Linked DNA regions of Homo sapiens: region 2 is linked to region 1. Evidence: fine-mapped expression QTL. Tissue or cell type: fibroblasts. Region 1 holds a variant in brackets; the other region holds the start of a gene. All regions are shown on one strand. Distances are from middle to middle.

The links. PIP is the estimated chance that this variant, and not a neighbour inherited with it, causes the effect.
Region 2: it holds the start of CCDC71L, and the variant in region 1 is fine-mapped to the expression of CCDC71L in fibroblasts (GTEx, PIP above 0.99).

What each region holds. Positions count from the first base shown.
Region 1 is chr7:106,535,523-106,543,630 of GRCh38, forward strand. No RefSeq gene overlaps it. Among named protein-coding and RNA genes, the nearest start is that of CTB-30L5.1, 59 kb to the right of the region's middle. The variant G/A (reference allele first, on the strand shown) is at 3,195.
Region 2 is chr7:106,657,335-106,665,427 of GRCh38, forward strand. CCDC71L (coiled-coil domain containing 71 like) reads right to left here and starts at 3,824. Exons shown (of 1, transcript NM_175884.6): 1 at 1-3,824. The coding sequence starts at 3,562. The coding sequence ends at 2,855. RefSeq lists an enhancer at 2,598-2,647 and a silencer at 2,998-3,267.

The DNA of each region.
Region 1 (8,108 bases):
CAGATGATAAAAAGTGGCCTCTTACGTAAGACTTGCTTTTGTTCCTTAAGGTTCTCACTCCTTCATGAACTTCAAAAAGAGACTGAGTTGGCAAGGCTAAGAGGGTAGTAGAGCATTCCTGGGTCCTGTGATCATCAACTCATTACTGTTGTAAAGCCTCTCTGACATTTATTACTGCTTTATTTATGTCATGCTACATGTGGACATTTCCCCCCTAGTGATACACAGAGATCTACCTCAGCGTTTTAAACCATGACTGTAGTGAACACTGTGATGTGCCCTCCAGGTACCCCATTCAGGGGAAGATTTATTGCCCCATGACTGGGAGTGCTGTCTGCAGACAGCCCCAAGCTGCTAGCCATGCAGGATGTGCTCGAGTTGTAGAGCACCACCTCGCCCAAGGTCACACCCTTCTTAGGTTAGCCCACTTCCAGTGACTGATCACACTGGCATAAAATGACCAGGTTATCTGACCCCATACACGACAATTCTAGCAGGCTATTTTAGTTCCAGAGCTTCCTCCTGGAGTCAGTTAAAGGTGTCACTGAAGAATGATACATGATACAGCTTTGAGCAAAGAGATATCAACCCAAGTCCAATGGCAATTTCTGGAAATTTTCATTTTCTTGATAGAAATACTACCCTGTTCTAGCTGGTTTTTGTTGTAGGTAGAACAATGACCCTTCCACCTCTAAATATCCATATCTCAATCCCTGGAACCTGTGAATATGTTATCTCACATGGCAAAAGAGACTTTGCACATGTGACCAAGACTCTTGAGATGGGGAGATTATCCTGGACGATCCTATACAATCAGAAGAATCCACGTAAGAGGGATGCAAGAAGGTTATGATCGGGGAAGGAAATGTTAGAACAGAGGCAGGGAGTAGTAGAGAGTAGTCAGAGAGATTTGAAGAGGCTGCACTGATGGTGTGAAGATGGAGGGAGGGGCCATGAGCCAAGGAATGTGGACAGCCCCTAGAAACTAGAAAAAAATGAAATAGATTCTCTTGAGAGCCTCCAAAATGAACACAGCACTACCAATACCTTGATTTTACCACAGTGAAACTGAGTTTAGACTTCTTAACTCTAGAACTGTAGATAATAAGCAGCAACAGGAAAGCAATACAGCTTCCATTCCCCTTTCTCCTACCTAGACTGTGGATAAAATGGATGGAACCGTGGCAGCTACTTTGACTTTAGGGAGAAAAGGCCAAGAATTGTACAAATAACTTGTCTTGACACCTTCTGAACTAATGCCAGCAGTTGCCTACCTCCAGATCCACTGTTGTATGAAGAAAGAAGACAAAAATAAAAGACAAAAAACACTTCTTACATACTCAAGTTACTTTAATCACATTTGCTTCACATCACAGTTGAATGCAATTCCTATCATGCAGCAGTCAAAAAAATGTAATAGAGGTCTTTTATTATTTTGAAAAGATATCCATAACATACATTAAGAGAAAAAAGACATGTTATAAAGTGTCTGAAGTATGAATCTGTGTGTGATGAATCGAATGATAAAACATTACTTCTAAGGTTAAATTCCAAAATATTAATTGAAGTTTATCATATTTTGTATAGTTAGCTTCCCTGCTATATTTTGCTTTTGTAATAAAAGTAAAGGTGTTTAACATTTTTAAGGGAGGCTGATGAAGGCAAGATAGATTCACCAAAAGCAGTTCAAGGATGAATAGCAAGTTAGCATAATCAATGTTTATCTGGACATAGAAGAGGAAAATAGAGATTGATTGACAAAAGGAAGTTTTGTAATAAAAACAGGATGTGGCAAAGGCCAAGACAGGACATAGAGATAAGTGAGTATTTATACATCGATTCTAGTGGAGTCTAAGGAACGAAAGAACAAGTGTGAACACCAACCAAAAGACCAGAAAACAAATTATAGTCATGCATCTCATAATGAAGTTTCCTTCAAGGACAAACTGCATATATGGTGGTGGTCTCATATGATTATAATACTGTATTTTACTATACTTTTCCTATGTCTAAACATATGTAGACACACAAATACTTACCATTGTGTTACAATTGCCTACAGTACTCAGTACAGTAGCACGCTGTATAGGTTTGTAGCCCAGGGGCCATAGGCTATATACTATACAGCCTAGATGTGCGGTAGGCTGTACAATCTAGGTTTGTGTAAGTACAGTACACTCTATGATGTCGCACAATGACAAAATCCCCTAGCGATGCGTTTCTCAGAACATACCCCCCTTTGTTAAATGCTGCATGACTATACTTGACTTATACTAACAAATAAGACATTTACTTAAAGTTTACATGTTGCAATGTTTTCTAAAGAAAAGCCATGTTTTTTTGAAAACACCTCATTCAACCGTTCTGTTCCCCTTTGCTTTATTACTCTTCATAGCACTTTTCTGTCATGCTATATTTTTTTACCTTGATTATTTGTCTCCTTTACAAGAATTTAAGTACCATAAAAGAAGAGAGTTGGCCTCTTGTTTTCACTGCTCTGTCCCCACTTAGCACAGTGCCTGGTATACCATTGGTCTCAGTAATTATTTGTTCAGTAAATAAATATACTACAGCAAGGATTGGTAAACATTTCTGTAAAGGGTCAGATAGCAAATACTTCAGGCTTTAAAGGCCAAGAGGCAAAATTGAGGATGTTACTTAGGTACTTATATAACAACTATTAAAAATGTGAAAACCATTCTTAACTCCTAGCCATATAAAAATAGGCAATGACTGGATTTGGCCTGTTGTCCATGGTTTGCCAGCTCCTGAGCTGAAGAATTAACAACTCAACACAAATAAAAACTATCCTTCAACTATCCTTACTTAATCTCATAAATCATTTCTGGTTACTTTCAGGAACAAATGTGGGAGCAATATGATAGTTACCAGTTCTGTGTCTTTCTAGAATGAGACATGTCACTTTTTCACATCTAAATGTTATAAGGTGATAATTTAGGGTAGGAACAGCTCATCGTAGTAACTATTACTAAAGGCCTGCTCTATGTTAGGCACAACACCAAGAACTGTGGGTGCACTTCAAGTTTTAAACTCAGCAGCAAAGACACACGCAGACAATAAAATATATTCTTAATTTTTTGAGAAAAGCAGGCAATCAGCTACAATTTACTCAGAAATTTGAATGAATTCTGTTTTTAAAATTTCCATACAGGGCACATATTAAAGAATGTGTC[G/A]TTCTGATTCTAGGATTGTATGGTGCCAAATCATATCCTGTTTCTTACATTTTTCATCTACCAGGATGTTTTTAAGTTTATTCATGTTCCCGTGCATGCATTTATCTCATTGCTTTTAACTACAGCTCAATGTCCCACAGGATGCATCTGCCATATATTACGTATTTACTATTCGGTGGACACTTGGGTGGCTTCCAGTCCCCTGTAGCCATAAGCACACTGTCATGAACATTCTCACACAGTTCCCTTTGCGGACCTGGGGGAAGCTCTGTTTGAAGGCTTCCCCAGATGGGTGTGCTTTTTATAATTTACCAGCAGTGCCCAAGGGTTCCCATTTCTCTGTGAACTCTGTGTCTTTTTAGAAAAAGGGATATCACTTTTTCACCTCTAAATGCAATCCTTGCCTTTAACTATCTAATAATCACCACTATGATGCGTTTAAGGTGATGATTCCCTGCTTTAATTTGCCTTTCTCTGATTGCTGGTGAAAATTGTACAATTCTCCATATTTCTGCCATTTGGGTTTCCCCTTCTGAGACTGGCCTATTTGTAAACTTTGACCATTTTTCTGGTTCTTCTTGCTCTTTTAGAAATTCCTTCGCTGATAATCCATTGGCACTTGGGGATAATGTCAAAAAAAAAAAAAAAAAACAAAAACAAAAAACTTCTCCCAGACTGTCACTTACCTGCTAACTCTATAATGACCATCATCTTAATGACCTTAAATCTTGGATTTGATACAAATTTTCTGCTTTTTAGATTTTTAAAAGAAAACCCTCCTCATTCAGAGACCACAAATGTTCTCCTAGCTTTTTTTTCCTTTGTGTTAGCTCTATCATTTCACTCCTTCCCATTTAGTTACTTAATCCATTGGAGATGATTTTTATATGTCATATGAGACCCTATCTTTTCCCCACTATTTTGGGATGCCTCCACTAGCCTATACCAAGTTCATATATATATAGATATACAGACACACATATATGCATATCAGTAAGTCCTCACTTAACATTATTGACAGGTTCTTGGAAACTCTGACTTTAAGTGAAAAAACATATGAGGAAACCAATTTTGCCACAGACTAATTGATATAAACAAGAGTTAAGCTCCTTTGGCGTATTTCTGGTCACAAAAACATTATGAAACTTCTAAATAAAGACCAAAACACTTGCAATATTAAACACTAAAATAAATCTGAGCTATACATACATTTAAGAAAGATTAATAAAAACAAGATAATTATTTATCCAATTTCTAGTGAGTGACAATGGTTGTGGTAGTGAGTTAAGGAATAAATGTTTGCAAAGAAAAAATGGTCAGAAGCACCTCCTGCCCCCATGCAGTTCAAAAACAATCAACTCCAAGGCCAGGCATGGTGGCTCATGCCTATAATCCCAGCACTTAAGAGGCCAAGGCAGATGGATCACTCAGGTGACCTCAGGGTCAGGAGTTCAAGACCAGCCTGGCCAACATGGCAAAACCCCGTATCTACCAAAAATACAAAAAATTAGCCGTGTGTGGTGTCAGGTGCCTGTAATCCCAGCTACTTGGGAGGCTGAGGCAGGAGAATTTCTTGAACCTGGGAGGTGGAGGTTGCAGTGAGCTGAGATCACGCCATTGCACTCCAGCAATGCAATGGGTGACAGAGTGAGACTCTATCTTAAAAAAACAAAACAAAGCAATCAAATCCAGTGGCTCACTGAGCTCCTTCTCTTTCCTTCCTTCCTTCCTCCTTTCTTTCTTCCTTCCTTTCCTTTCTTCTTTTCTTTTCTTTTCTTTTTTCTTTTCTTTTCTTTGGAGACAGAGTCTCGCTCTACGCTCTATCCCCCAGGATGGAGTGTAGTAATACGATCTCGGCCAGCTCACTGCAACCTTCACCTCCCAGGTTCAAGCAATTCTCCTGCCTCAGCCTCCTGAGTAACTGGGATTACAGGTGCGTGCCACCATGTCTGCCTAATTTTTGTGTTTTTAGTAGAGACAGGGTTTTGCCATGTTGGCCAGGCTGGTCTCGAACTCCTGACCTCCGGTGATCCGCTGGCCTTGGCTTCCCAAAGTACTGGGATTACAGGCGTGAGCCACCACACCCAGCCACTGAACGCTTTCCTACCACATCAGTTACTGTCATGCGTTTGTATGATTATTGTCTACTTTATGAATTTTTATTTGACAATAATTTGTATTCATTCATTTATTATATTGCAACTGGCATATTCCAGCAGCTCAAAGCATGAAGCGGGAACACACCCTGGAGAGGACACCATCCCACACTCACTCACACTGGGATCGTGTAGACACACCAACTCACATAACATGTACATCTTTGGGACGTGGGAGGAAACTGGAATACCCGGAGAAAACCCACACAGACATTGGGAGAACGTGCAGACTCCACACAGTGGAGTTTCCCTGGCTGGGAATCCATTTTTTTTCATATCAACATTATAATTAAATGATGTTGAATGAAATTATGTTATCTGAGGATCTGCTGTGCATATATAGTTCTCTATTTCACTGCTTTGTCTACCTGCAAGTACCACATTATTTTTTTTGTCTATGACTTTGTAAAACATTTTAGTATCTAGTGGTGTGAATCTTCCATTTTATGTTTTTATGTGGTATAGTTGCTTTTCCTAATGTGAACCCTTATTCTACTTTATATATTTTGGAAATAGTTTATCAGGTTCCCTACCCTCTCCCCACCCTAATCCCGCAGAAAAAGAAAAATTTTACCTGAATTTTGGTTGGATTTGCTATGAAATTATAGATTAATTTGGGGGTCAAATTAATATGTTTAAAAGGTTAAGTCAGTTGTGCAGAATCTGGATTTTATAAAAAATAAAAGTAAAATGTTGTTTCATTTATGAAACAGGATTATCAGGGAAACCACTACTGCTGGTCTCAGCTGCTTACAGCACCCAAGCAGTAGTTCACAGAGAAGCTGCCTCGAGTCTGCCACTGTCCCTACTTTTGTCCATAACCATAAATGATGACTTCTATTATCTCTTTCCAAATGTCATGCAAATTCCTCTCAGTAGCAGAATCAAACCCAAAAGCTCCATGGCAAGAGGCAGGGATAATGCCAAGTTGACAACTATCCACCCAGTACAAAAGAAAAACAAAAAGTTCTTAATAAATGTTAAGTGATTTTCAATAAAGTTTAAAACACACAATATCAAAGATATTTTGAGTCGAAGCATATTTTAACTGATTCAGTGATATGACATATTATTTCACTTGGAAGCATTTCAACTATTTTAAGATTTGCAGAGGCTCACATTTAAAATAGGATGAATCTTTCACAAGGAATAGTATTTCTGGAAAGATCAAACAGTCAGTATGATATAGTATTCCCTCACTGCTCACCCCTAGCCATAGGTTTATTAAACTGTACCTAGTAAGAACTTTATAATGTAAGAGGGGCATGAAGAATTTCATGACTGCCCAGACACCAGCAATAAAAATGATTCAATGTGGGGGTGAATATGATTTATTTTACATAATGTACACACTGTGTGTAAATGACTGAGTCATTATTGGTTATAAAGTATAAGTAGAATTATTATCCAGAACAGTGGTCTCCAAACTCTATTGATCATACATCTTTGTCCATAAAGTTGCTTTGATCATACACAAATATGGAAATTAAAAAATAAAATTAGAAAGAGAGTTTCTAACATTTCTTTCCAGTTTCCCAATGGACCACCTTATGCAGCTCTTGTGGGGCACACACCCCCTGTAATGAGCACTGACTTATCTACTCTCCTGTGTTTTGTCCACATTCTTCATCTAGCTGGTCAAAGCTAGGAACTGAATAAACGTTGCCCATTACATGTAGAAGGATGCGTTGATCAAGACCTAGAGTCAATACTAAATTAAGCACAAAACTGATCAAGAACTAGAGTCAAGTTCACTCCACTAAATATCATACCTGCCAGGAGGGGGCAGATGTGAACAGGGCGTAAGAAAATCCCTACTCAGAGACAGAGAATGTGGAAAAAACAAGCAGCTAGAGGGAGGTGGGGCACAAATTCTACAAGACACACTGAAGCCAGCCAGAGATAGCCCATGGCTAGAACAGGAAACAGTCTGAAAACATCAAACTAAAACCAGAATACAAAAACAACTGCCAAAGACAGAATAAAGAAAAATGCTGGGGTTGGGGATTTGGGTGTGTAGTTCACAGTGGTGAGTGGAAAAAAAAAAAAAAAAAAAAAAAAAAACCAGGAGCTTTCATCCAGAAGCCCAAAGCTGGAGTGAAGAAGAGCTTCAGACAGTGCCAGAACAAATTTCAAGAGCCAGGCAGAAATAGTCAGGACTTCCAGGGCTCAGAAGTTTATGAGGCAACTATTTTGAAACTATTCCTGCAAGTAAGACTCTTCTAAAAAAACAAACTAGTATTCTCAGTCTTGTGATTTCTGATCATAAGGAATTCTCATTCTTTCCAATCTGGGAGATATGCAAGGCTCTGGCAGACTTTTTGAAATGTTAGAGCTCAAAACACAAGTCAAGCAGTTATAGCACATTGCTGAGCAGACAGCACACATTCACTGAAGATTTGTTTACCATTGATTTATCCTGCATGAATGATGTTCCACAGAGGAACACTATCCATAGTGAATACCCCAGGGGCCGTGGAATGTGAAGGCTCTAATGCTCTTCAAGGACCAGGTGCTGTTCTAGGCCCCAGGGATACAGCAATGAACCAGATAGACAAAGCCCCTGCCCTCCTCACACTCACAATCTAGTGGGACAACAACAAATAAAGAAACAAACAGATAATAAATTCCAGATAGTGAAAGTTCAGTGAAGAAAATCAAGCAAGGAGATGGACTAGAGTATGCTGAGGGTGGAAAAGGTGGACTCTCCCTTAAAGAGTAGTCGGGGAAAAGACTTGTTTTAGAGATGTGAGCAAGC
Region 2 (8,093 bases), 120 kb after region 1:
GGTCACCACATTTAGGCACTCAGGAATTAAAAATCAAATAAAAGCATAGCGAGGTGATGAATTTCCTCCTGGCTTCCCCCTCTACTTGTGCCATATGAGATAAAAGAGAAGGCAAGAGAATGAACGAAGATCATGAGATTTCTTTCAAAAACTATACACAAGCTAAGCTACAGACTTCACTTCAGAGGAGTAAGTGGATGCCTCATTATAAAGGCCACTATGCCAAGTTTCTTTTCACATTCTGTGACAAAGTACCCATGAAATACTTTCACTTTCCTATTAGTATACCAGTCAACTATATTAGATGTTGCTTCACATTTTAAAAGTTGTCACATAGGTTTTTACCAAAGGGCAAAAATAAAGATTTTTTACATCTTATTTCACAGACTAGAAATGGCATAATTTTTGAATAGTCCAGATGAATACCATATTGAATTCAAGATGGACAATCAGATCCAAAATGGAATCAGATAGCCCATGTAATCCAAAGAAGCATTTATGTGAGTTCAAGTATGCTAAAGTAACAAGGCATAGGAGAGAAAAATGTCAAGAATCTCAGTTAAAATAAATGAATGGTGTCAGTGGTTATGTTTCAGTGGTGTGCTGAGCAGTTATCCTCCCAGTTAAGCCAAATTTCAAAATCCTCTGGAAAACTATCTAGATAAGCTGTATGTCGAAATTGCATTCTAATATGGCCATTGGGTTTATTTTTCATTATTATAAAACTATATACAATAGTAAAGTTGTACAAATACATTTTTTCCAGGTGCTAGTTAGCTATAAAAGTTAACAATATATTTTTGGGAAGAAAACCCTATGCATCTGAAATACAATTGGCAATGGAAGCTAATAACCAAAAGATATGTCTAAGCTTCCTATCACAAATATAATTTAACACTCTCCATCTTCTAAGGAATTATTCATTTTTATTTACTCATGTGACAGTGTTTGTACAATGCATTATCATTGAGTAGTGAATAAAAGACTGAGGCTTACTAGAAAACTGGCATCAAGTTATATATATGTGTGTATATATATATCATATTATTTCTTTTAACAAGAACACTGAAATTGAAGTCACAACACTCCTATACGGACTACTAAACTTGAAATACTCATTTCAGAAAGCTATGCCATTTGAATTCTAGGAACGCAAGAGTCAAAATTGTAACTCTCATTATTCTCCTAAAAAGCTGCCAAGCAGAGATAAGCTTTAGTATTAAAGATTTCACATGTCAAGTTCCAGCCCAGTATGGATCGTTTCATGGCAGAATACTTAAATTTGAAATAATAGTGGTACAAAAACACTACTTGACCCTTTAGGTATTGCAGTAAAAGCTGGCTGTGGCACTGCTGGCTAAAAACTATTAAGTTTTCCTGCCACAAATGACCAAAGGCACTTGGATAATCAAGAATTCCACACTGGGCCATATGGTATAAACACTATAAAAGCGTAAAGAAGGGTCAGTATTCTGTGTGTCTCGCCTGTTTGATTCCTGTGGTCTTCAGCTGTCAAAGACCTAGAACTGCAAACATATAATGAGTGGCAAAAAGGTTAAAAAAAATGTTGGGACAAAAAAATCAACTAAAAATCAACTAATTTTCATTATGTTTGTAAAACTGATGAATATTAGTCTAGACATTTCTTGTTATCCAACAACAAAAACAAAAAGGAAATAGATTTCGCCCAAAGTAACCTTAACCAGTTATTTGATACCAAGAAATGCCTCCACCCCTCTTGATCATTAATAGTTCTAAGAATTCTAATGGGTATTCTGTTTATCATTTTAGTGATAATGTTTACACACATCCATCTCTCCTATGCAACTCCCATTTTAAAATACATTATCCTTGTAAAATACATTACAAGGATAATGTATTTTAAAATACTTTAACGCATAATATTCCTAGATTTGTATGTTAGACCAGGACAGGGGGCCAAATCATCTCCAGTCGGATTCCAGTGACTCCTGTAACCAAAACCAGTTCTTCACAATTTATTCATTTTTTTTAATCACACACCATATGGTTTCAATGCATTTTTTTATTCAATTCAAAAGAATTTAACAAGTTAACTTTTCCTAAACAAAAGTTTTCATGTGTATTCTACCATTTTTAGGAGCTCAGTAAATATAAACATTGTTTCAATACAAAACCTTTAAAAATACCTTGAAAATGTTTAAACAGTTGTATTTTGCATGTCTTTGTTTGTAATCACTGAGCCCATACAAATCCTTGCACTACTAACAGTCACAAGCTTGAACCTCTTAAAAAATATCCTCGATCAAAGCTTTGGAATCCAGTAAAAATTAGGAAACGAGTGGGCTTCAGAATACCCTGAGCACAAACTAGTGCAACACCACATGTTCGAACTTCTGTCCACAAAGAGGGGTGACAGTGAAATAGAAAAAGGGGGAGATAAAGAACAAGTAAATTCTGGCTTTATTACACAAGCACGAAACCAAATTCCTTTGGAAAAATAATGTCTTCGGAGGACTTCCAGACCAGTGAGGTAGAGTCCAACAGTGAGAAAACGGATCTGCCCCTAAGGTCCTGGAGACGTCTCAATCGGTGGTCAGGAAGAAAGGGACCTCCCCTGCGGGTCCAGCTGTCCCCTCCCTCCGCAGGCCGGGTACGGGAGGCAGCAGAGGGCACACCTGCCCCAGCGTCCAAGACGACCGCGCCGCGGCCCGGGACAGGGACAACCATCCGGCAACTTCTTCGCGCGTAAAGTGCATTGGGGGCCGGGGTCCTGGCCGGATCTGTAAACACTCGACTGACACTTGTTCATTCCTCCGGGCGGAAGGCCTGTCCCAAGGTCGGGGCCGGCAGGAGGCGCCCTGGAGGCCGCACCTCATGCCCGGGGCACCGGGAAGCGGCGGAGCCTCACCATGGGTTCCAGGTTCACTCGCAGGACCTGGCGCGCCCTGCGCCGCGCTGCCGCCAGGCTGCGCTCGCCCCACACGTCGCTGCCGACGCGGATGGTGGGGAAGGTGGTCAGCGTCGGGGTGGCCGCCCTCCAGATCTCCTCCAAGGTGCGGCCCCCGAAGCAGGGCCCGGGGGCCACGGGCTTGGCCGGGCAGCTCTCCTCGGGGGGCGGCGGCGGTGGGGGTGGCGGCCGGGGCTTCCTCCTGCGGGCAGCGGCCGCCCGGGCTCCGCGGCGCCTCCTCCTGGCCGCTGCGCGCGGAACCGGCCGGCGCGCCTGGCCGCGGGCTGTAGGGGGCCCCGGGGGGTCGGGTACCAGGGCCCGGCAGGAGGAGTAGCCGTAGACGTCCTTGCTGCGCAGGATGTGCGGGGAGAACTGGTGCTTGAGGCTGCAGAGGAAGCTCCAGAGCTCCGCGTCCGAGCTCATGAACTCCGTGCTGCGGGGCATGAAGAGCTTGAAGGCGTCGCCCAGCGCCTTGGTGCTGTCAGCCAGCGACAGTTGCGACCGCGAGTACACCACCTTCTCCTCCCGCGCCTCCAACCCAGCCCCGTCTTCTGCCCTAAAGTCGCCGCCCCGGGCGGCCGTGGCCGGGGCGACCGGGCGCCGGCGCCGCCGCCTCTTCATACTGCGCCGCATCGAAGGCCGCTCCGGGCCACTCACGCTCGCCGGGTCCCACTACTGCCGCCGCCGTCCCAGTCCGCGTTGGCTCCGCGGCGGCGGCTGCTGCTGGCGTCTCTCGCTACTTTTCTCGCCTCCGCCGCCGCCCCTCCCCCTCCGAGGGCGGAGGACGCGGGCGAATATCCTGCTGCCCGGTACAAGATGGCGGCCGGCGCCCACCCCTGGGCTTTGTCATTGGACGGCGCCTCGCCCCCCTGGTTTCTCTTTCTTCTCCTCTCTTGCCTCTTTTCGCCGGCTGCCTTTCTTTAAATGTGCCCGCCTCAGGCCCCTCCCACCGCAGCCCCGACTCCACCCATTGGGTGCTCTCAGAAGAGGGGCGGGGACTGATGGGGGAGAGGCCAGTTCCTGGAAGATGGTGCTGGGGTGGGTGATGGCCTTTGAACGTAAGTCAACGGTTGGGTGGATCTAGGAGGGCTGCCACGTCTAGAGTAAGAGGGTGGATGTTGGCTACACCATGGGAAGAGTGACTCTTAGAGTGAGGGGGTGTGCAGTTGTGGATTGAGCTGGGAGCTCTACCAGTGTGGATAACAAAGGGAGATTTCCCTGAAGGATGTTCCTGGTATCATCACAGCTAGGGAATTTGGGTTTAAGTCTAGGGGAAATGGGCCTTTCGCAATTCCCATCCACCCTCTCAAAGGCCTCTTCTGGCATCTTCATTCAAAACTCTTCCCTGTCTTGACCCCAGCCCATCTCAAGAAGCCAGTAGTAATCCAGAATCATTCAGGTAATGTGCGTGGCTGGCAGCTGAGAGATTTTAGTCTCCCTCTGGACACTGGAGCCATCTTCATATTTAAGAGAGACCCTGCTTATCCAGAAAGCAAAACATGTCATACCCTATAAAACTAAATACTCTTTGCTCAAGTTGATCAAAGATCTATTACAATAAAGCCATTCTGTGAAAAGAAAATATAGTTTTAAATACACAGTTCTTTATGGATGCCAATTCGTTTTTCATTTAGTTTTAAAATGTCAAAGCCACCCCTATCATTTAGAAAGGATGCATCATCGCAGACAACAGATAAGGTTTCGTTGAAAAACACAAATTGTTCAAAACACATTACCTTTTGTATTGGGAGGAGAGTAGTGGACATCCTTTAGTCATCTTTTCTGTCCTCTATACCTAACTCAGTTCCTGTCAGGTAGTGGACACTCAATGTGTTTGCCGAATGAATCAATGAAATACCACCGATTATCCCAAATAGAGTCAGAAATGTTGAAACTGCTTAGAACAGGACAATTAGATATTTTATATTGCAATTTTCACAGAACTCCTTTAAATTTCTTAAGGTTAAAAGAAAAAATCTCCTGACACTTAGAACTTTGAGGTGGGCATGTGGATTTTACCCAGGAAACATCTTATTTTGCAGTAGTGAACAAATAAAGTATAGGAGTTTTGTGATTTACATGTAGTTGCTAATGGTTTCCTCAAATATTTGACCTGAAAGAGACCTAGTTCATTCTCCTTATTTAACAGGTGAGGAAATCTGTACCATAGAGGTTCAGTAACACAGCTGGCTGATAGCAGAACTGGGATTCTAAATCCTTCGATTTCTAATCTAGTGATCTTTGTATTTCACTGAAGGTTTTTCAAACTGTGCTGTCCAGACTCTAAGGAATTCAATAGAACATGCTTTATGCATAAGTAGAATGACGAAGGACAGAGCTGTACCCCTATTCCTACTTCCACCCCACCCAGAATTGAGCAGTTTTTCTCTGTCTTATAATAGATTTATGAATAATATTTTGTTTGTTCAGTTTCAATAAAACCTAAAATAAATAATTTGAAAGCTCTACACCAGAGATGTCAAATTCTTGAAAGCTCTCACCACACAATGAGTTTATGGCAAAAATAAAACTCCACACAATGGGCTTATGGCAAAAATAAAACATCTAACCAGGAACCAGCTCTCTAGCAAAATCATGGTAACTTTCTGAATAGAAAATCATTTTCCTAGAAAAGCACACTCTGATCTCAGAACAAGATTACAGAGCCAAATACCAGCTTCCTAAATCCTTATAAAGGAATGATATAGCAACAACTCTTTACATCACAATTTGCTCTTTCCGTAATTCTGAGACACATAGTAAAGTGAAATTTGAATAATTTCCATTGGAATACCCAAAATCTAGAGTGAGCCATGAGAAAGTTAGGGGGGCTTCATAATGAAAAGCAAGGATAAAACAAGGATTAAAGTAGACCTGGCTTTTCATATTGGAATCCCCTCCCTTCCTTGATAATCATCATTTTATAAATTCTTCAGGGTCTTTACCACATAAATATATTCCAGACATTTACATAAATGTATAGAACTTATTTCAATTAAGAAGATAAACCTTTTTTAAACACAATTTTGGTTCTAAGAAAACATAAGATCTCAACTTGCCAAGTATTCAAGAGTTCATTTTATAATGCATGCTCATTTAATTTACTTAAAACCAAACAATATTTTTTATGAAATACTTTTAGGAACTAATATCATGATAAAGTGCTTATGTTATCGTATACATTTAAATTTGACATTATTTGCTCTATTCTGTTTCCTCTATTATTTTTAATTTTTTCTTGACCTCCACCTTTTAATTAACTCTAATAGTCTTGCAAATGGTTCCTTATCTGTTCTCCATAAATAAGCAAAATTTACACATAGAAATAATGTATCTCTTCTAGTTCCTGAGACTTGAGATACTATGAAGTTTATGGAAAGTTGGCAAATTAAATTTTTGCTCTTGAGTAACGATATTTTACAACCCTTAGTTTATTCCTTTACCTCTCAAGGGTAATAATGCCTCCTATGTCTGCTAAATAAGTGATGAATAATAATAAACAAAAAAAAGCTGTATGTATTTACTTTCTGTATTCAATATTTATGTAGTTAAAAAATAAATCCAAGCCGAATAAAGTGATGGGAAAAATTAAATAAAATGTATCTTTTAGCTACCCAGAAGTATTGCTTTAGAATCCAATTTCTATAAAATAATCTGCCTCTTGAAAAGTGGCCAAAAAAATTTTGAAAATCTATATAAGTGGTTGCAAACATCAGCTCTGGAATCAAATAAACTTGGGGTCAATTATATCTTTACAAAAAAATATTCTTAGACACATTTTTCACCTTTCTGAGTCTCAGCATTCTCATCTATAAAATGAGTATAACTTCTAACTTCAAAGTTTTAAGAACTGGACGAGAGAATATTCATAAAACACTTACTGTAGTGCCTGGAACACAGCATTCAATAAAAGCTATTCCTATTTGTCTTATTTATTTTTGAGGATTTTACTTGGTTTAATCAATATATTTTAAGCCCTGTATTACAGAATGTCTACATATTTTTTTAAAGTAGTGGCATTGATGAGAGGAAAATAAAAACTTTACAGCTAGAAGAAACTTAGAGATCATCTAATGAGTCCAACATTGTTAATTCAGATGAGAATTCTGAGATGCCAAGAGATCTGCCTAAGGTCACAGAGCTGTACAGTGGAAGATTCTGAGCTAGAACGTAGATCTCTAACTCTAGTTCAGAATTGTTTCTAACATTCTACATTTTGTACTTAACCAAGGAGATAGCATTAATTGCTGGCTTAAATGATGTTAAATATAGCATGATTCAGCAAGAAAAAACTCAGCCTTGTCATTAGACCTATTCTAAAAGTAATTTAGATTTTTATACAAAAGTTAGCTCAAACCCTGATATGCTCTGCAACGGCTTAATGTGAAAAACATAAAGACCATATAAACTGAGAGGATAGGACTTTCTTTTGCTTATAGGAATACCTGTACTTTCCCTATTTTTCCCGCTAATTGCAACTAAAAACCTTGGATGTTATATATAAAGTATACATAAGAAGACTCTGAAAAATGGAGAAGAGAAGGCAGACAGGCTGGAGACCTCAGAGAACCCAAAGAAGGGCATGGCAGTGAGTTCCCTGGGTCTCCTTTCTTCTTCTTTTCTCTTTTTCTAGCAAATCTGAGACTGGGTGCTAGACAAGCCAACAACCCCAAAATGCCAACAGATGCAAACATAAAAAGCCCCAACAAAATCTTCTTCTCTCTAGCTACAGGACCGGGAAAGGAGGGGCAGCCTAACAAAACGGAAAGCTTTTAGAAAATAATTTTCCTACTGCTGCAAAACACCATAGAAAAAAATTATGACTTCTACCCTTGCCAGGCTATAAAAAGGCACCCCCACCACCTCTGCTAGGGTGGTATGAGAGGAGGCTGGATAAGAAATCAGGACTTTAATCCTTGTTGGGCAGTAAACAGGCAATCTGTACCCATGGTGTCAGTGGAGACCATGTGGTGAATATAACAAGACAATCCTACCCACCTTCTCGGCCCTAGTGAGAAGCCAGAATTCCTACCCCCATTCAGCAGTAATGAGGGGCTCCTTTCCCCATTTCAGGTATCAGTGGAAACAGAGGAGAAATCTGGACTCTGACTTGGCAGTATTGAGGCAGTGCCCACCCCACCCCCATTAGGACAGTGTCAGAAAA